Linked DNA regions of Homo sapiens: regions 1, 2 and 4 are each linked to region 3. Evidence: fine-mapped expression QTL. A gene starts in region 3. Each other region holds a variant in brackets. All regions are shown on one strand. Distances are between the middles of the regions.

Region 1 (5,350 bases), 25 kb before region 3:
AAAAAATACCAAAAGAGAAATTGTCATAGTGCCCCATCCAGTGCCTTGATCACAGTAGGTACTCAATGAATGAATGAACAGATACTGAGTTCCAGGAGAGACAGAAGACACATGCACCCCACATATCCTAGAGCTGAGTCTGCTGCTGTGGGTAAAATACAAACACTCCCATCTCTCCTTTTGAATGTGAGACCGGGCATAATCACAGGACGTTCAGGTGACCCAGAGCTCAGACTCCAGCGCCTTCCACATTTCCCTCAGGCTCCAAAGCAAAAGCACGGTATAATTACAAGGGCCATGTTGCAGTTTAGGTCAATCCAGCGCATGTTATCTGATAAATGAATTCCAAAGCCAAGCGAAACTCTCAGCAGTCTTTCCCCAAGATGCTGGGCTCAGCATCAGCGTTCAGTTCTCCTTAATTACAGGTTGGCTTGTTTTGTTGCGCAATAGTGCCCCAGCCCGGATGAATGTCATTTCCTTTCTTGGTAGGTGAAATGGATGAGGTGAGAAAGGCCCGGACCACACCGAGAATCGAATGCATGGTAAACATAGGGCCACGGGGAAGTCTTGACACCGCTCGGCAAGATCTCTCACCGATGGATCCACCCTCTATGTTTTCTGATTGGACACATTTCCTGAGATGGGAAGGATCATGCTATTGGCTGAGGCTGCATCAGGGGAGTAATATTTACTCTGGAAAATCTGGGAGAGGGTGTCCCAGTCTGTGAACTACCCAGACCCCCACGTTCACAGAATACTAGGATGAGGAGGATCCCAAGGAACACCTGCATCAACTCTCATGTTCTACAAGGGAAGAAGCCAGGTCTCAGGGACATTAAATCACTTTCCCAAATGTACCAAGCTAGTTAGAGTGAAGAAAGATCCTATTTATCCCAGTTCCCAGTGAAATGCCATTTCTGCTCCATACCTTCTCTTCTCCATGTGTCCTATGCTCTCGCACTTTTTGTGCTGCTTAGCGTTTTGCCCAGAGGTGTGCCAGAGATTATTGCTCATTCTTTCTCCTTCCACGGTCACAACACCTCCCTGGGCTGGTGTCACCTCTTACTTTGCAATTCAAAACGTTGAAGAAGGTGCGACCTGTCTAGATTTTCGTGTAGCCTTCTCTCCTGATTGCTGTTTCAGATAACACATTCAGGGTGTTGGTAAATAGCTGTGAATCAGAGCCTCGGGGACAGCCTGGTTTGGTGTGTGGATAGTCTGGCTAATGTCATAGCAGTCCCTGCCTTAAATATCAATGTCCGAGGAAGGTGGGATGCTGTTTCCAAAAGATTGATTTGCACTTCTGCTAATATATGGCTGAGTGTTCTTTAAAATGGAGTATTCTGCTTGCCCTCTGCCACCTTCACAACACCCTAAATCTTTGGAAGAACGTGCTTCTTGTTGGACCTACAAGTGGGGAGCATCTTGCCTTGTCCGGCCTGTCCCAGTTTCTCGGGAACCCTTGAGGTTTCTGTCCCTGTTCCACATACTTAGCCCCATCTCCAGGCTTCCTGTCCATCAGCCTGAGAGACCATACTCTAGGAGTCTTAAGTGCTGAGTTCCCTAGTGGGAACTCACTGGACTGCAACGCCCCAAGTCCCTCCTTCTCTCTCTGTGCCTTGGGATGGGCTTTGTGCCAGCTGTGCCCATCCTGCTGTTCTGCAGCTTGGTGCCCCTTCCTAACGTGATGGGCCTCTGCTAAGGTCATGTTCTTTCACCAACCCAGGGTCCTTCCAGCTCCTCCACCAAAACAGTGCCCTGGTTGTCCTCACTTGTCCCATCTTCAGCAGGGAGGCACTTGATTCTGTGGCATTTGGCACTGCTCACTGGGCTTTCTTTTCTTTTCACTGTAAGACTCATGCATTAGATCTGTCTTGCTATAGTCCTAACAATGTCTCTGTGTCCCCACTCCCATTCAACTCTTGCCATTCTCCAGCCATTGCTCTTGAAGAATGTGGGACTAATAACCCTGGGTAGGGTCACAAGGCCCTGCAGAGGTGATGCCATGAAGTTGCCTACACAGAACTGCCTCCCTGCTAAGAGTTCCAGGATCAAATTCTTCTAGGTGCCTGCTTGGGTGGGTCCTCATCCCCACCCCTGCCCAGGGCACCATCTGTGGGAGATTAGGAGGTAATCACTGTCTACCCCTCAGACACCACGTGCTGCATGACTGTGTCCTGAGGCAGCCACATGGCTGCCAGCTCTGAAGGTCCTGAGATCCCCATTCTGAGGCCCTTCGCTGACTCACTGCTCTCATTCTTCTTTCTCTGTCCACTCTCAGGGCAACTACATCCACACGGTGAAGGCAGGGCCTGTGTAGTGGATGCCAGGCTGTCTTCACGTACATTTCTCTTTCTCTTAAGCATCCTGGACCATAAAGCCCTAGTGTGCTGCTCCTACCTTGCCAGTAGGACTCCTGTCTCAGCTCCGTCTCCTGAAGACTGACCCTACAGGAGAGATACAAGCATCTCCTGTTACCTGTGCCCAGAT[G/C]GTCCTTAAAAAATCATTTTCCTATTTGATAAACATAAAAATGTTATGTCTGACCAGCCAACAGGCTCTAGACCTGAGCCATCTAGGAAGATGAGGCCCCACCCCTAACTGGTGCCCTCTTTGCAGATTCACTGATGCAGATTCTTGTCAGCAGAGATAACTTGTCAAATTTTACTTTCATCAAGAGAAATATAATTAGAGTGATGTACTTTTCATTTCTAAATTATGAAATTCTATTATAATGTGAAATATGTATTTTCAAAGTATACATACATTTCCTTTTAGAAATGTTGATATACCTCCCTAGGAACTTTCCTTCCTTTTGTTAGAAAATCAATGCTGTAAAATGTTAGGGAACAAAAGAAAGGTATGGAGGAAGATCAACCTTGTGGGACCCAGGAAGAAGCAGGGAAGAAGAATCCCACTATGAAACTACCTTTCCAGGACAAATAATGTTCTCAGAAATGGGCATGTACTTTGTCTCCAGGCAGATAGCCTGCCCATTACATTTTTGTTTTGTTTTGTTTTGTTTTGTTTTGTTTGAGACGGAGTCTCACTCTGTCACCTAGGCTGGAGTACAGTGGCACGATCTCGGCTCACTGCAGCCTCCACCTCCTGGGTTCAAGCGATTCTCCTGCCTCAGCCTCCTGAGTAGCTGGGACTACAGGTGCCTGCCACCATGCCCAGCTAATTGTTGTATATATTTTTTAGTAGAGATGTGGTTTCACCATGTTGGCCAGGCTGGTCTCGAACTCTTGACTTCAAGTGATATGCCTACCTCGACCTCCCATTACGTTTTAAATAGCACAGCTCTCTGCTACGTTGTATATTTCCCAAATAAAAAGTTTTCAGCTCAATCTCTAGAAAAGCTCTGCTTTATCAACTTTCTGTTTCTCATGCCATGAGTTGACTATGACTCTCTCACGCACCTGCCAATCAGTTTTATCACTTGCCATTAGGAGGTCCTTGGGAAGCAATGGGAAAGCTCCCCAGTCCAGAGAAACTAACTTCAGGCATGTGTCTGAACTCAGAGGCTCCAACCAAGAGCAGGGAAGGGCCTTGTGGGAGGTGAGTGCATTTTGGATATGGGGAGCAAGGCTGGTGGGATTCTGCTAACGAAACTGATCACAGGTGACAGGGCTCTCCTTTGAACTTGATTATTTTTAAAGTTCACCTCTCCCTGATCCATAACGAGGTCTGGTGAGACTTGTCATAGTCCCAGAATTATTTCGATCATTCCAGCTCAGCCGAAACAATGAGAGAACATCAATATGGCAACTCCTCAGATGTCTGGGAAGAGGGATCATCACCCAGGCCTGGGAGCTCTGCGCAGTTTTGTCTGCCTTGGCTCCAAAGTGCTCTTTGCCCTTAACACTGCACCACTGTACAGATTCACACAGCTGGCACTAGCTCCACAGTGGCTAAGGTTGTGCTGCTTAGGACTGACCTGGAGGAGAGGGGAGAAAAAGATGGTATTAGTGGCTCCCTTTCATGTCAACAGGTTCACTGAAAAAGGAGCAAAGGGCTTAGTCATGTTTTAATGCTCTCAAAGCTTACTATGTATCCAGGATATTTTGGGTTATATTTAGTATTTGATTCACGTTTCAATTATTTTAGCAGTAGACAAAGCAAAAGCTGAGTGAGTCCCATGCAGTAAAATCCTAAAAGCTTTTCCCAACCTAAAGACAGCCCATAACTTTCAGCTTACATTTTACATGAGGAAAAACAAATGTTTCAGTGAAGCGTCCCAAATTCTTAGAAGAATCAGAGATAAGAAGCTCCCGCCAGCAATTTCAGTGTCCCTGGCCCAATTTAGTGGTTTGTGCCTTGGCAGAGCTCCTACTAACAGGACAGAGGACTCTTTGGGAAGACAGAGCCCATTTGAAAGGCGAGTGTTATTTATAAATTATCTCCAGATGGTCCAGTTCCTACAATTCCTACGTTGCTCAGACTCTCAGAGTGGAAATTTTAATCATAGACTGTTTGAGGTTGATTTGGTCTAAGCGAGGGACAATTTTGAGGATTCAAACGACAAAAAGAAGGCAGAAGAGTTATCTCTTGAGACTGCTCTCCGGAGACCTGCCCTTGCTTGTGGAGCCTTAGTTAATCACCATTTGTTTTCTGCTTTGCAATTCACAAAGCCCTTTTCTCAGAGTTTCAGACAGGCCTCCTCCCTTTGCACCTGGGAGAAACTACTGAAAACATCCTCCAGGGTAGGAACCACACTGAATATTTAATTTACCTTTTTAAAACATCTAATACATATTAGATGTATAGATATTATATAAAAGACACAGGTTAGGTATTAGAACTCCAATCCTACCTGTTTCTCTTAAGCACGTCCCCACATCAGGAACTGTTGTCTGATCTACACTTAGCCTGCCTGCCTACCTGCCTTCTTTCCTTCCTTCCTTCCTTCTTTCCCTCCCTCCCTCCCTCCCTCCTTCCTTCCTTCCTTCTTCTTTCCCTCCTTCCCTCCTTCCCTTCCTTCCTTCCCTCTTTCTGTACTTCAATCTTTCCACCAGTCAGTCCTTCCATTATTTCTTTCATTTATCCAGCAAATGTTTATGAAGAACTTACTATGTGCCAGGGATGGGGTTAGCTATGGCTCAGAATTCAGAACACACTTTATATCTCAGTGGAGAAAGAAGTAGCATGTGAGCCCTGCCCACCACAGACCTCTGCAGAACCTCATGAATTCCAGCCAACATATGACAGTCCACATATGCAAAGGAAAAAACCCTTGCCATGCTTACGTCTACCGTGGTGAATGCCAGCAAGACTCTGGGGAAAGATTATCTGTCCAAGTTTATGAAATTAAATGTGCCCTTGGAGTGGGGGTGGGGGTTCTCTTGGGCCT
Region 2 (5,350 bases), 40 kb before region 3:
TAGAGACACGGTTTCACCATGTTGGCCACGCTGGTCTTGAACTCCTGACCTCAGGTGATCTGCCCACCTCGGCCTCCCAGGGTTCTGGGATTACAGGTGTGAGTCACTGCGCACGGCCACAATGGGGACACTTTCTGAGAAGTGCGTCATTAGGTGATTTCGTTGTTGGGTGGCCATTGCAGAGTGTACTTCCACAAGCCTAGAAGTATAGCCTATGACACATCAAGGCTATAAGATACCGCCTATTTCTCTTAGGCTACAAACCTGTGCAGCATGATACTGTGCTGAACACTGGGCAATTGTAACAAAATGGTAAGTGTTTGTGTATCTAAACATATTTACACATAGAAAAGGTACAGTAAAAATATGGTATTATAATCTTATGGGACCAAGGTGATATATGTGGTCTGTTGTTGACCAAAACATTATGTAGTGCATGACTGTAATTGTATTTCTTAAAAGACTATCTGAAACTAATTAGTCAATATATTGAGGTAGCATTTATGTAATCTTGATGGTGAGTACATAGGTGTCTGTTAACTTATTGTCTGTATGTTTGAAATATTTTATAAGTAAAAATACAATTTAGAAAAAGGTGGCATTCAGGCAGTGATTGCCCTAAATGAAACCTAAAACGATCCACAGAGCTTTAAATGCTATTAGAGGAATAGGTTCATTGATTCCATAAATATTTATTGATTGCCTTCCCTACAGTAAGTGTTGTGCTAGGTGCACATGAAACATTAATTGAACCTTGCCCTTGGATTCACTTGCGGGCCATATTACAGCTGGCAGTGATTATGAAGGTCCTTGGAAGTCCAGGTTAGTGTTACCTTATGCTGAATTCTGCTCTATATTAGGCCATCTTGTAGGACCTTTTCAAGTGTACTTTATCTTGATATAAGCCTGGAAAAGCACATTATAATAGCTAATAAGACCTAACGTAACTTATAGAATTCTAGGCATAGCCCTAAGCCTTTGCATGCATTATGTCTTTTTATCCTCACCACAACCTTATGAGGTAGGTACTATCATTACCCTCATTTTATAGATAAAGAAACTGAGGCACAGGAGGTTAATTAATTTGAGTTACGTCACCTAGCTAACTAGTAGAGCCAAAATGTTCACTTTGTCAACTTAACTCCAATGCACATCACTCTTAAGGTCTCTTTTGGTCTGTCTGTCCTTGTGTAGTTACAGTTGAACTTTAAGTTCTCTGGGCAATGCTTCAGGACACCTGTTTTATGTGTTATGGAAGAGCAGGATGCTGGGTCTGGAAAGGACCCTTAAAGTTCATCTGGTCCAGTGGAATGGTAAGGTGTGAGCTTCATGAGAGCAGGAGGTATCTTCATTCCATCATTGATGAGTCCCCCTGCCAGTTACATAGTAGTAGCTCAGTAAGTATTTATTGAAAAAATGAGTGTTGAATAATTTTGTTTTTTAAAGCATTTATTCAAACCTCCAATATTAAACAGATCATATCAGAGATGCTCTGGTTAAAGTTTTTAAGTGGAGGTGGGGCCCAGAGTTCCACAGTCTAGAGCCTGCTCTAGAACTACCCACAGCTTGAAGGCTACTCATCTAATCCAGATCCCTGCAGTACAGATGAAGATGCCTGATGTCCAAGGAGGTTTAGTGTCCTATCAAAGACCACTCTGCTAAGGAGGAACAGAGCTGACTTTTCTGATGCCGAGTCCCAAAGTTCTTTCCCCCACCACAACATAAGGGGGTAGCCTGGCCCCCAGACTCCTTACAACTGAGAATATACTTATAGGAAAACGACAGCTGCTTGGCACATAGATGGTTATGTAATTCAAGTTACTCAAAGACAACCTTAATTTACATGTGATAGCTAAACAAAGATTTTCTGTCTCATAAATTAAGAATGAGCAATTGCATTGTCTACTACCACATCCCATGAAATACCTCTAAACTCAGAGAACTCTTTGTTGGTTTTAAAAGATACCAAGATCCATTTTATTGCTTGTTTGAAGATTATTCATTTTATGGCTGAAGGGAGATTATGGCACTTTTGCTATCCTCCAGCCTTTCCCCCATCCTCCAAGAACCTTTCACCCCACCTGCCTTGCCATGATGAAAATGTTACAGGAAACACTCAGCAAGGGGTTGCTCGGAAGAAACCTGTGTGAGAATGTGTGCCTTCGTTTGGGTATGAGAGGGTATCTACCAGCAGGGATGCCCATCCAATTATCTCTCCCGAAGGCGCACTCCCTATTCTTTTAGGAGCATATTAATCATTTTTACTCTTCCACAGGCATTTCCAGTGTTGTCAAAACAGTGCCTGCCTGCATCTGTTTTCTTCAATTGGCCTGGGTTCCAGGGAGTGTTTGTGAGAGAGGAGAGAACAAGAGATTGACAGTCTTGTGTTGACATTTTGTGGCTGTTTGGAAATGAAAACAATCCAGGTCTGATGTTGTAATTCCTC[CT/C]TTTATGGGCAAAAAGCAATGTCTCAGCATGAATGAGCATAACCGAACACACTAGGACACACCCCAGACACACTGTGTACTCCCGGGACACTCACCATGCTTTTAGTTACTGCTGTTGTAGAATGAAAGGCAGAAAAGGTCTTTTATTGAGCCAAAGAATCAAGAAATCTTTTGATTCTCCATACCCAAATCTCCTACTCCAGTGGGATGAATAAAATGTCAAAGAGAAAAAAAAATCCTGATTTTTTAATTTACTATATATATATGTCTTTTTTTCTTCTTTTCAAACTATAATATTAATCACAACTCAATTTTTAGTTACCCAAGTAATAGATTTTCATTGATAAATATGAAAACAATATAGATAAACAGAACTTCTCTTTACCTATTCCCCTAATCTGACACTGTTCTTCATTGTATATCATTATTATCCCTCCACTGCACATATCTCCAGGCGTTTTCTAAGTATTTACATTCATATATGTCTATTTGCATATAGGAATGCACATATTTATTTGGTGGGAATTTTTGTTTAATATATAAATTGTTTATATGGTACATATTTTACTATGACTAGCTTTTCTAACTTAAATATGTGTTGCATATTTTCTTCATATCAGTATGTATTCATTGATCTTATTTGCTTTAAGAGAAGTATAATCTTTCATAGAATGGATATATGGAAATTTATTTAATTATTTCCCAAATGATGAAAATTTAGATTATTTTCAATTTTTTATGATTACAAGCAATAGTGTGATGAAATTTGTTGTACTTATCTTTTTAAGCACATGTGCCAATGTTTTCTATGGAATAGACATGAAGAAATGAAATTTATGGGTTAAAGGGTAACACTTGCTTTTTAAAAGCAACAATAAAAACTATCTATCTAACTGTCTTAGCTTGAGCTGCCATAACGAAGTATCACAGACCAGGTGGCTTAAACAACAGACATTCATTTCTCACAGTTTTGGAGACTGGTAAGTCCAAGATCAAGATGCCTGCAGATTTGGTTCCTGGTGAGGGCCGTCTTCCTTACTTGCAGATGGCCACCTTTTTGCTGTTTCCTCACATGGTGAAGAGAGAGAAGGCTCTGGCTTATCTTCCTCTTCTTATAAGGACACTAATCCCATCACGGAGAGGGCCCAACTTCATTTAAACCAAATTACTTCCCAAAGACCCTATCTTCAAATACCATCATATTAGGGGTTTGGGTTTCACATATGTATTTTGAGGGTACACAAACATTCAATCCATTATATATCTATTTATCTGAATTGGTAATAAATTCCTACAGAAAAAAATTACAAAGTCAGGATCAAGCGGAATCATAAATCTAAAAGCAGGCAGACAAAAATGGTGGATTTTAATTTAACTATATCAATAATCACATTAACTGTAAATGTTCTAAACACTTTATTAGAAAACATAGATTGTCAGATGGGATTAAAAGAAAATAGCAAGACTCGACTCTATCCTACCTACAAGAAACCCACTTTATATCTAAAGACATAGATAGTTTAAAAGTAAAAGGAGAGAAACAAACAGTAGTCTAACACTAACAAAAAGAAAATCAAAGTGCTTAATAACAAACCGGACTTAAGAACAAGAAATTATTACCGGGGATGAATGGGTATTAGATTATAATAAAGAGGTCAATTCATAAAGAAGACATAATAATCCTAAATGCGTATGCGTCAAACAAAGTAGCTTCAAAATACATGAAACAAAAATTGACAGAATTGAAAGAGTAAATAGACAAATCCAGTTATAGTTGGAGTCTTTAGCACTTCTCTCTCAGTAATCAAATAGAAAAAATAGACAGGAAATTACTAAGAATGTAGATAACCTAAACAGCACTGTCAACCAACTTGACCTAATTGACATTTAGAGAGCGCTTTACTCAGCAACAGTGGTACCTCAAAAATATTAAAAGAATTTAAATCTTCCAAGGTATGCCCTCTGACCATGATAGGGTTAAAGAAGAAATCAATAACAGAAAAAGATTTTTAAAATCCCCTAATATTTGGATATTAAACAACATATTCTAAGTAACCCATGGGTCAAATAGGAATTCACAAGAGAAATTGGAAAACATCTTGAATTGGATAAAAATAAAGATTCAAAAGGTCAAAATTTGTAGTACAGCTAAAGCTGTAATTAGAAGAAAATATGTAGCATTAAATGCTTATGTCAGAAAGGTAATTGGAAAACTCACAAAATTGAAAAGAGCAATGGAGAAACAGAATCACAACAAGCAAGAACAAGGGACGAGGCAGTAGCTAGACACATAGCCACGATCATGCTTCCCAGCAGCTCTGCATCAGTTGCAGGCTACTGGCTGCCACAAGTTGCCTGGAAGCCTCTCTTGGCTCCAGAAATTGGTTCTTACCACCCCAGCTGTTGCCACCCATAACAAGAATGGTTTCCTTCATTTCTTGACACCAGCTCTCTCTTCATAGTCCAGAGCTTGAGAGTCTGATTGGTTGAGCCCAGGCCATGTTCTTCTATCCTAGCTATAAAAGTTGATAGGAGAGTAAGTGGCTTAAGTGTTCAGTTTCTGTGGTGGCAGGCTGTGTCTCCAGTAACAACTCAGAAAGTGAGGATCTCTCCAAACAAAAGAAACAATTTCAGAAAAGTTATCACTGTGCCATGCCACCATCTTTTCCCAGACTCCTGTTTTCCTCCCAACAGCCAATCATTCTCGTTAGTTTCTAGAGTAGCCCCAGAAAAGGATACATATGTGTAAATTTCTGTGTCCCTCCCCCTTCTTTATAAGTGAATAGAAATTTATAAGGTTATTGAGTGAGACTTTCCCTGATACTGTGTAGCTGGTTAGAAAGACCCAGACCTGAGATCGAAGTGTACCCTATAGTTTAGAGAGGATTTTGATTGGTAGCGTT
Region 3 (5,350 bases):
AAAGTCCCTGATTTAGAGTAATTTCTCAAGAGTTGTTTAGGGGTTGTCTTAGTCAGCTCAGGCTGCTATAACAGAATATATATTGTAGGCTGGATGGCTTCAACAACAGACATTTATTTCTCCCAGTTCTGCAGGCTGGGAAGTCCAGGAGCAAGGTGCCAGCAGATTCTGTTCCCGATGAGGGCCTTGGTCCTGGCTTGCAGATAGCTACCTTCTTGCTGCGTCCTCATGCAGGTGAAGGGAGAAAAGGCTCTAGTTTTGCTTTCTCTTCTTATAGAGACTAATCTCATCACGGAGCCCCACCCTCATGCCATCATCTAAACCTAATTACTCTCCAAAGACCCCCCTCTAAATTCCATCACATTGAAGGTTAGATTTTCAATATCTGAATCTTGGGAGGATGCAAACATTCAGTCCTTAGCAGGTGCTGGAAGTATTAACACAGTGCCCAAAAACGATAGAATATTTTTGGTAGGATGAATCCACTTTCAACCCTGGAAGCCAGGCATTTCAGAGTGGAAAAGAAAAGAGAAGCAATAACTGCACAAATAAGCATCTTATTAAGGAAATCACTAGGTTTTTGAGGGCTGCACATTCTATGCTTTCTAAAGGATGATGTCTCAGCAGGCGGAACGAAGCTAATCTTGCCTGGCTGCACTCTTCTGTTCTGGCAGGGGGCTGGTGCCGCTCCCTGCAGATGCCCACGATGCCAGGCAGCCTGGTTTAGTTTGTGGAACGTGCTCTAATCCGTCAGCACAGCCACAGTAGATACTCTGAAAACTAAGAGAATCACCTTCAGCAGCTTATCGACTAACCACAGGCCCTTATCTCAAATGGGAACTGATTCAAACCGTTATTCAAGCTTATTCAAATGAATTTGAGAGTCTACTAACAGCCCTGGCTACATAATTTGCCGGGTGCAGTTCAAACTGAAAATGCAGGGTCCTTTTCAAAAATTATTAAGCATGTCAACATGGTGTCAGTAGAGCATCCAACTAAGCACACGTCGGCTTCTGAGCACAGGTCACAGGCCCAAAAACCCAGCCATGCCAAGCAATGACTATCCAATAAGTCAAACACCAGGAAACCCCAACCCCTCCACAGCCCTGCGGCTGCTGCAGCAGAAAAACAAAAACAAAACAGACACTCAACACCATCAGCATCAGCTCTTCCCAAACCACCAGCCTTCCTCAGAACCTCCCTCATTTGACCTGTTTTAACTCGTGTTCCCTCGACCTTCAAATTTTCAGTGTCCACAAAGCAGATCAAGGCTATCACAAAACAAAACAAACACCAAAAAGCCAACCCACTGGATCTAGAGACCTACGGACTTGCCCTCCTGATACTTGCAGCTGGTGTTTAAGGACGTGCCTGCCTTGGGCGATGGGCGGGTAGAAACCTCACACACCAAAGCCCATCGAGCTAAACTCAAGGTTGCGAACCCCAACCCCGGTGGGAACACGGTCTGCAGACACGCTCCCTTAAGTCCCTGTCGCACACAATAAATTGCTTTCTGAATATTCCCTTTACAACTGCAAAAAATAGAAATGGCTGTAACTGTGCAGAGAAAGAAAAGAGAAGCTGGGATGAGCTCCATCAGGGGCCGAATCTGCTTCTCGCTGGTGGATACTGTGATAAGAAACCTAGATCTGAACGGCCTCACAATGGCCTATTTATCCGGCTCTTACGCACGGCCGGCAGCCCCGGCTGGGAATCACGGGGGTGGCAGCCGTCCCCGGAAAACGGCGGCATTCCGACACAGGAAAGCCCGCGGATCAACTGATCTGCAGACAACGCTTCTTCCTTCCTGGGAAGCGGCCACAAAGGCAGCCAGCTGACCCCGGCCCAGCGCGGCTCCCGGCCGAGGAGGACAGGGGCGGGGTGGGGAGGGGGGGAATCGTCGCCCGCCCCGCCCCCACCCCCCAAGTTTCCTTTGGCAAAAGCATCCCAGGCGTGGTTCAGGCAGAGTCCACGCCAGCGAGGCTGGGGCCGAAACTCTCCACGCCAGGAAGGCGGGGTAGGCGGACCCGCCGCCCCCAGCCCCGCGCGCCCGCCGCGCCCCCCACGGCCCCCACCAGCTGGCTCTTCCGGCCGGGGCGGCCTTGGCCTGGGGCTGGGGTTGACTTTGGTGGGGGGACAGGAAGGACTGGCACAGCGCCCGCGACTGTCCCCTGAGGAGGACCCTCCCTACGACTTTTGGTCAAAAGCAAAAAGAAACACAGACATGTGCGTCACCCCGGGAAGCGCGCGGGGGTTTCGCTCGCGTTTCAGGAGCCGACTTCGCATCCTCCCTCGGTAGGGGGGTCGGGGGTTCCTAAAATTTACCCCCCAACTTCACTTCTCTGGCGACAGAGCACCTTAACAGTTCATTTCCCTCTCGCTCTCAAGTGAAAACATCTTATTTTTGTGTTAAAATGTATAAAGACACCATGAGAATTGGCAGGAGGTCAAACCGTAGATTCTGAGATGCTCCGGTCGCTCCCCAGGAAGCGCTGTTTTCGGAAGTGTTGACCCAGCAGCTGGTCCCTGCTGCTCTAATGACACGATGTGTGCTTTCACTTTTTCACTCCCAAAACGACGTGGTTTGGAGTCTTGAGAGCCTTGGAAATCGCTGCCCGTGGAGGGAAAGGTCTGGAGAGGCCAGGCCAGGAGAGCAGACATGCTGCAAGAAGCGGAGGCAGCCCTGTGAACTCGCCTGGCTCCGCAGGGAGGGGCGAGGCTGTCCAGGTCGCAGGTGGAGCTGGCCAGCTGCGAGCCAGGATGTCCTTGCTCTTTCCAAATTATACACAGTTTCCACAAGGAAAAAAGAGAGGGGTAGGGGGTCCAGGCAGATCTTCAGCTGTTTGTATACTCTGCACCAGGAGGCGCTATCATCAGCCCGGACCCCTACTCCACAGGACTGAGGAGACCACAATTCTTCCCTCCAGGCAGAATCGTGGACCCAATATTCCCGTCTCCCCGAATTCTCTTAACTCAGTATACTGCCATTAACAGCATAGTCAGCCTTCTGGACTTGAACTCCAGAAGGAATTTTGTCTCATTTAGTGCCTGCAGGGGAGCAGGATGAGATAGTACCTCTTGTACCGGCACAAGGTCTCTGAGTTGACTCTTACATAAACATTGCGCTGTTTCTAGGGACGGCATCATTTCTTGACCTAGAGAAACAAAGATATTGTGGGAAGGACCCCTGATGCTCAGTGGCAGTTTGGAGACCTGGCATTAGCCTTACTCAGTAAGGCTTCCTGATCTAGCAGGACTGATCCAGTCAGCTTTGATGATCCCCTAGCCTGGTACTGGGATTCTTCCAAACACCCATGAGATCACCCACATCTCACAGGGGCTGGTAGTGTTCCAGCAGAGAAAGGTGAGGGTAGCAAGCAGTAGTCACTTTGGGCCTGAAATGAACATCTTGGGGTTTTTATATCTGCCCACCCACTATGGGACATTATTGTCCCTTCCTCTTTGCTACAGTGTTTCCAGAAAATGAGAAGTAGCATCTTCTTAGAAATAGATTGGGTACCCTGTCTTAGACCTAGTTCCTTTTTTTTTGTTTTTTTGAGACGCTGTCTCACTCTGTCTCCCAGGCTGGAGTACAGTGGTGCGATCTGGGCTCACTGCAACCTCCGCCTTGGGGGTTCAAGTAATTCTCCTGCCTCAGCCTCCTGAGTAGCTGGGAATCCAGGTGTGTGCCACCACACTCGGCTAATTTTTGTATTTTTAATAGAGACAGGGTTTCACCATATTGGCCAGGCTACCCTTGAACTCCTGACCTCAAGTGATTCGCCTGCCCCAGCCTCCCAAAGAGCTGGGCAGTTACTTTTATTATAGTTCTAGATAACATAGAAAAGAACATGGAAAGCAGCTATGCAAGCAAAACACAAACACAAACAACCCTGTTAAAAAGTGGGCAAAAGACATGAACAGACACTTCTCAAAAGAAGACATGCAAGCAGCCAACAAATGTGAAAAGATGCTCAGCATTGCTGATTATCAGAGAAATGCAAATCAAAACCACGATGAGATCTCACACCACTCAGAATGACTATTATTAAAAAGTCAAAAAAACAACAGATGCTGGCAAGGCTGTGGAGAAAAGGGAACACATATACATTGCTGGCATTGCTGGTGGGAATGTAAATTAATTCAGCCACTGGGGAAAGTAGTTTGGAGATTTCTCAAATAAAACAAAACTACCATTCGACCCAGCAGCAATCCCATTACTGGTACATATCTAAATGAAAAGAAATCGTTTTACCAAAAAGACATTCATTTTTATGTGCTTCACAGCATTATTCACAATAGCAAAGACATTGACTCAGCCTAGGTGTCCGTCAATGGAAGACTGGTACATATACACCATGGAATACTATGCAGCAATAAAAAAGAAGGAAATCATGTCCTTTGTAGCAACATGGATGCAGCTGGAAGCCACTATTCTAAGCAAATTAATGCAGGAGCAGAAAAACCAAACAGTGCATGTTCTCACTTATATATGGGAGCTACATATTAGGTACACATAGACATAAAGATGGCAACAATAGACACTGGGGGATACTAGAGGGAAGCAAGGGTTGAAAAATAACTATTGGCTACTATGCTCACTGCCTGGGTAACAGGATCATTTTACCCCAGACCTCAGCATCACATGTATATCACACAATATACCCATGTAACAAATCTGCACATGTACCCCTGAATCTAAAATAAAAGTTGAAATTATATATTTAAAAAAAAAAACAGGACAGAACATGAACTATGGTGACTATTTTCAAAGGAGGGAGACTTTGCATTTGCCAGGGTTCAGGTTTTATAATATATTCTTGATATCAATATATTTTAAAAGATATCTGGGTGAAGTTTAAAAATCCCCTGAACACACATTTAATAAGCTATCTCCGAAACCTATTGAGAAAGGCTGTTCTTTGCCTGCCCAGACTCTGCCTCTTCCATTCTGACTGTCCTCACAGCCAATGGGACAACCCGTAAGAATAATGAGCTCTGGCCACCCAGCCCCATCCATGGTCAATGCCTCTTGCGGAACCCATTGTCTTTGCCTTATAGGATTGCAGACCTGGCCTCCGACTCCTAATGGCTTGCTCTATTTCCTGCTTGCACTCTGCCTCTCTCCATCTAATGGCGGAGCCTCCCTGGCTCCAACCCCCTGTGCTTTCCCTTAATGTCCTGCTCTTCCAGACACTCCAGTAACTTCCTTGCCCAACCTGTTGGCTTCCATGGCAAGTGCTCCTGGAAAACCTGATCGGCCCCTGCTCCTCTAAAGGGGTTCTGACACACGCTCCCCTTCAAGTTGCTATAGGACATCAGACACCAAGATTGTGGGCAATTACTACCA
Region 4 (5,350 bases), 56 kb before region 3:
TTGAATGCAACTTTTTTTTATCAGAGAATTTTCAGGTTATTCATTTATTCAAAAAATATTTATTGAGTGCCTGTGACTTGCCAGGTCTCAGCAAAACCATCAATTATCCTGCAGCATTCATGGTTGGAGCTGCGCTCAAGTCTTCTAGGGCCTTACTATTGTAATACTGGCTGCCCACCCAGAACTACCAGCATTTGAACCTCTTTGTCTGGGAGGCTTCCTCTGGTTGCTGGAACCTGTCTGCCCCAGGGCAAGCTGGAAGTGTTGAAGAACTGATGCCTGCCTGCCCATGCCAGCACCTTGCAGCAATGACTGCTCCAGCTCCCTCCAGCTCCCTGGCTCCTCAGGTGGAAAGACCAGCAATGCTCTACACTGGCTCCCAGAGCTCCCCAGTGGGGTAAGCTCCTCTTGCCAACAATTGGAATTTGCTAAGTAGTAATCCCTGTATACTGGCTGCCTTGCCTTCACCAGCTCACTTCTCCATGCCCTTATAAACATTTCCTGGGATCACCTCCCCAAACTACCCGTACTTGAATCCTGTCTCAGGGACTGCTTCGGAGGGACACCCTCTTAGGGTGTCATTGTTTATGTATCTAATATCACTAGTTTAAAAAGAAGTTTTAGAAGAACCCTAAAAATGTTTGAAAAAGAGGGGGTCTATGATCTCAAGAAGCTCCCAGGCTAGCCATCCTTTTTCCCAGAATGAGGGGAGAAAAGTGAGTGTTTTAATACTTATTGCAAAGGAATCTGTATATTAGATTAACCCATATGAAATTGCTGATATTTGGTCATTGTTGACATAAAAATGTCAGTTTCATCTTCTGAGAAATCAAAAAGAAAACAAAAACAAAAATGTCAGTTTCATATGGCTCAATAATACATGGATGGCATTTTTCTTTTCTGAGACAGAGTCTGCAGTGGCCTATCTCTGCTCACTGCAGCCTCCACCTACCGGGCTCAAGCAATTCTCCTGCCTCAGTCTTCCAAGTAGCCAGGACTACAGGTGTGCACCATCACCCTGAGTAATTTTTGTATTTTTACTAGAGATAGGGTTTTGCCATGTTGGCCAGGCTGGTCTCGAACTCCAGGCCTCAAGTGATCTGAATGGCTTGGCCTCCCAAAGTCCTGGGATTACAAGCATCAGCCACTGTGCCCGGCCAATACATGGCAGTTTTCTTGCTTTTCTTGCTTTGTGTTTTTGTTTTTGCTTCCATTTAAGTACCAAATTCTTGCCAACTGACAGAATGAATCACATATTCCAAAGTGGCTGGCTACCATAGCCAACATTGCAGCTGGCAGGATGCAGGAAGAGGGAGAAAGTTTATGCTTCTACCATTAACGATGTTTCAGAGGAGAAACACCTTGTTTCTCCTCAAACCCATTGAGCAGAACTTAGTGGCCACTCCTAGCTGCAAGGGAGTCTTAAACAATGTCATCTTTATTCCAGATAGCCATGTCTAGTTATAATAAAGGCTACTTTCACTATAGAAGAAGGAGTAAACAATATTGGAAGATATCTAGCACTCATGCCTCCCTAATTAAAATTTTTTTTACTAATAAGAAAGCAAACAACCAGAGAGGAAAAAGGGGTCTCCAATGAACCTAACATCAAATGTTTATTTTTCTGCAGTTCTTAGAATTAGAAGGAACATTTAAGATCCTTTGATGGTTTTATTTTATTTTACTTTACTTTATTTTCTATATTTGTGTTGGACCTCAGTTACAGAGGGCTAATTGAATCATCAGTTTAATTTCATGATGTATCACCATCACTCATGCCATGGCCTGCTCTTGTTTCTTATTTATTTATTTATTTTTTCTGTTTTGAGATGGAGTCTCGCTCTGTTGCCCAGATTGGAGTACAGATGCACAATCTTGGCTCACTGCAGCTTCCGCCTCCAGGGTTCAAGCAATTCTCCTGCCTCAGCCTCCCAAATAGCTGGGATTACAGGTGCCCACCATCGCACCCCGCTAATTTTTGTATTTTTAGTAGAGATAGGGTTTCACCATATTGGTCAGGCTGGTCTTGAACTTCTGACCTCAGGTGATCCACCTGCCTTGGCCTACCAAAGTGCCGGGATTACAGGTGTAAGCCACTGAGCTTGGCCACTTGTTTCATTTTGAAATGTATTCCAGGTCATCCTGAATAACTACCCCCATCCCTAGCCCCATCCTCATGTTAGGCTACACCCTGAATGTTTGATATCTATCTTTGAAATTGTGCTTTTCCTTACAAATTATCTGCTATTTTTGCATGTATGTATTTTTACTTTACATACACCGTATTGTGCTAAGAAAAACTTTGTTCTTTCTCTTATTTTTTTTACCCATCATTATGTTTTTAATATTAGTTTGTATCAAATTCTATATTTCACGTTATTTTGCTACACAATTTCTCTGGCTGTGGACTCCTAATTTGCCTCCAATTCCCCACTGCCAAGAAAGCGACACAATGATATGCATGCATACTCGTACTTTTCTGGACCTTTGTGATAATGTTTCAAGGGTTATTTTACTGTACAAAGTAAGATTTATGCACAGTAGTTGACTAGGCACTGCCACCTTGTTCCCCAGAATGTCCACACTGCATTCCCACCAGTGGCACACAAGACTTCGTTTCCTCATACACTGCCTGCCTTCCAAAAAATTTGACATTATTACATTTCTAATTTTATGAATTTGATGAGAATAAAGCATATGTCATTGCTGCTTTAATATGTATTTCTCCACTTACTATTTATTTGTCATATCTTCATATATATGTTAGCAATTGGGTTTTCTCTTCTGTGACTTGTCTTTTTATATCTTGACCATTATTGTCTTGCATTTTTGTCTTTTTCTTATTGATTTGCAGAAATCCTTTCATACTCCCTGTATAAACCCTTTGTCAATTAAGTCATAAAAATATTTTGTTCATGAGGGTAATTCTTTTCCTAATCTGTCATCTATCTCTGTCCATCATTGTTGCGGGTTTTGGGTCTTTTTACAATGCTCTACCCCATTCTCAATTATATTCGTCTACATTTTTTTTTACTAGCTGTATAGTTTTACCTTCACATTTAGGTCTTTGGTCCACTTAGAGTTTTCCTTTGCATTGGTATAAAGTATGAATTTTGTTTTGCTTTTTTAAATATAGTGACTCCGATTTCCTAACACCACTACTAAACAGTCTGTCCTTTCCCTATTGATTTGTATTAGCATTGTTTTCATATATCAAGTTCCCCCATACACTCTA[T/C]GTACTTTCTCTCTCACTCCCTCTGAGATCTTCGTTCCACTCCTTTGGTTATTTGTCTTGAACTCTTAAGTAGTCCCAAGTTTTAAAGTGTATAGAGAGTGTATACACATACACACACACACACACACACACACACACACACACATACACAAAGCAACATAACTGGTCTGGCCTAGAAAATGTGGGACTTGAAAGGAGATTCTGTGCCATGTAAATGGCAAGAAAGTGGGAAACAAGAAGTAAACCAAAATTCCCAGCATCGATCTTTGACCCCAAGAGTGATGTCAATGGTGCCTATACCCAGCTTCCAGGCAGACGGGAACTATATTCCTCTTCTATATTTCTTCTTGCTCCATGTCCACAGATGTAGTTTTGTATTTCATATTTGTCCACTCAACTTTGCTTCATAAAAGTTTGAGATGTCTTACAAAAATGCAGTTAACCAAGCAAAAGATAATAACACTAAAATAAGTGGAGAAAATGAGCCAAGGAAAAAATTAAAATTGCAATTTATTTCATTCAGAGCCCAAGTTAGTTTATAGCAACCTCAACTCACTTTGATTTTTTTTTTCCATTTGTAGTTCCTCTCTTTCTGTGCTTCACAAGGTTGTTCAACTTTTAGTGTTCTTGTTACGTTCTTTAGGAGAGGAAATGAAGACCCCGAAAGCTGCAGGTTTGAAGAGGTTGTTGGACGAAGGAGGTCTAGGTGGTGAGGGGATTGATGAGATGCTGTGCAGTTACCTGATAAAAAGACTGGAGACAAAGACTCAAAGAACTAGGGCTCTTGTCCCTCTTCAGCCACTGACTGGCTGCGACCTTCACTCAAACACAAATCTCTCTTGGCTTTATTGTCCTCAGCTGCCAGTGGGGAGGTTGTCCTCATGGTTCCAAGGTTTCATCCAACGCCAGCATTTTCTGATTCCGCATGCTTTTTTCCTCTGGGGGCATCAGTCACCAGCTCCCTCTGGAGACATTTTACAGCTAATATGCACACCAAGCCAGCTGTTAGTGCTATAACTGGGACATTCCCAGAAGGCTAATTAGCCTGCTCCCCTGGCTCAGAATAATTACTCCACAATATTCACATGACTCTTTTACACCAGGAATTCATCTCCTGTAGAGGGTCTCACAGATGTATCTTACGTATAAAAGAGAAGAAACAGCAAATGCATTCCATAGCCAAGAGCAAATAGCCTCTATAAATTGCATTTTCCAGCAAATATCCAAAAAAGTTAGCACAGAATCAAAGAAACTAAACTGCTCTCACCCAACTGTCCTCTAGTCCTCCAATTTTCTGGTGCCACTCCTTTTCCCAATAACCAAATAAACCTACCTAGGCCTCCACTTGGCACTGACTGCACATTCAGGTATCTCCCAGTTACATCTGTACTCCATCCGGAAGATATTCTAGTTGACATCTCATACTCCTTGCTCCAGCTCCTCCCTGGCTCTTTGGTCACCCCAAATGTTTCATTACTTGGCCTGCCTTGCAGCTCAAAGTGATCTCAGCTGTAGTGGCCAACAGCACAGCCTTACTGAAGGCTGGGGTGTGCCGGAGGGGAACTGTTTCCCAGCATCCAGGAAACAACTCAAAATCAGGATTCAGGCCTAGAACTACCCTGAGAATCCACTGGCCAAACACCATCAAGGGGAGCCTCTTACTGATTTTCTGTCTTCTTGGTCTAGGTCTGCTGAACCCACTTCCAGAAAAGAGACCATTCTCCCATCACTCTGGTCCTCTGCTTCACTCGACATGGCCTCCAAGGCCCTACATGGTTGAATCTCTGCTCTCCTCTGAAAGCTCATCTCCTACTTGTCTGTCCTCGGTCCAGGCCCTGCAGCCACCCGGGCCTTTGGTAGTTCCTAGAGAAGCCCTCTGCCTTCTCCCACCCCAGGACTTTTGCACATGTTGCCTGCAACACTCTCCTTCCCCTTCCCTCCATCTATTATGTACTTAATTCCTATACTTCCTTTAGCTGTCATCTCAGTTACCCCTTCTTCTTGGAAGCCTTTCTGATGGCCTGCACCTAGGTCAGGTTCCTTTGTTACATGCTTGCACAGAACCATATTATTTCCTTCTACACTTTTAGCAACACATGGAACTAGCAAAAAATA

What was found. PIP is the estimated chance that this variant, and not a neighbour inherited with it, causes the effect. A credible set is the group of variants that fine-mapping cannot tell apart.
Region 1: its variant is the best candidate, but not a certain one, in a credible set for the expression of LINC01948 in unexposed skin (GTEx, PIP 0.74).
Region 2: its variant is the best candidate, but not a certain one, in a credible set for the expression of LINC01948 in whole blood (INTERVAL, PIP 0.87).
Region 4: its variant is the best candidate, but not a certain one, in a credible set for the expression of LINC01948 in whole blood (INTERVAL, PIP 0.79).

What each region holds. Positions count from the first base shown.
Region 1 is chr5:56,454,007-56,459,356 of GRCh38, forward strand. It overlaps LINC01948 (long intergenic non-protein coding RNA 1948), which reads right to left. Exons shown (of 5, transcript NR_104664.1): 5 at 3,789-3,937. Among named protein-coding and RNA genes, the nearest start is that of LINC01948, 25 kb to the right of the region's middle. The variant G/C (reference allele first, on the strand shown) is at 2,491.
Region 2 is chr5:56,439,166-56,444,515 of GRCh38, forward strand. No RefSeq gene overlaps it. Among named protein-coding and RNA genes, the nearest start is that of LINC01948, 40 kb to the right of the region's middle. The variant CT/C (reference allele first, on the strand shown) is at 2,447.
Region 3 is chr5:56,479,100-56,484,449 of GRCh38, forward strand. It overlaps LINC01948 (long intergenic non-protein coding RNA 1948), which reads right to left and starts at 2,670. Exons shown (of 5, transcript NR_104664.1): 1 at 2,454-2,670. RefSeq lists enhancers at 1,069-1,238, 2,439-2,598.
Region 4 is chr5:56,422,687-56,428,036 of GRCh38, forward strand. No RefSeq gene overlaps it. Among named protein-coding and RNA genes, the nearest start is that of LINC01948, 56 kb to the right of the region's middle. The variant T/C (reference allele first, on the strand shown) is at 3,236.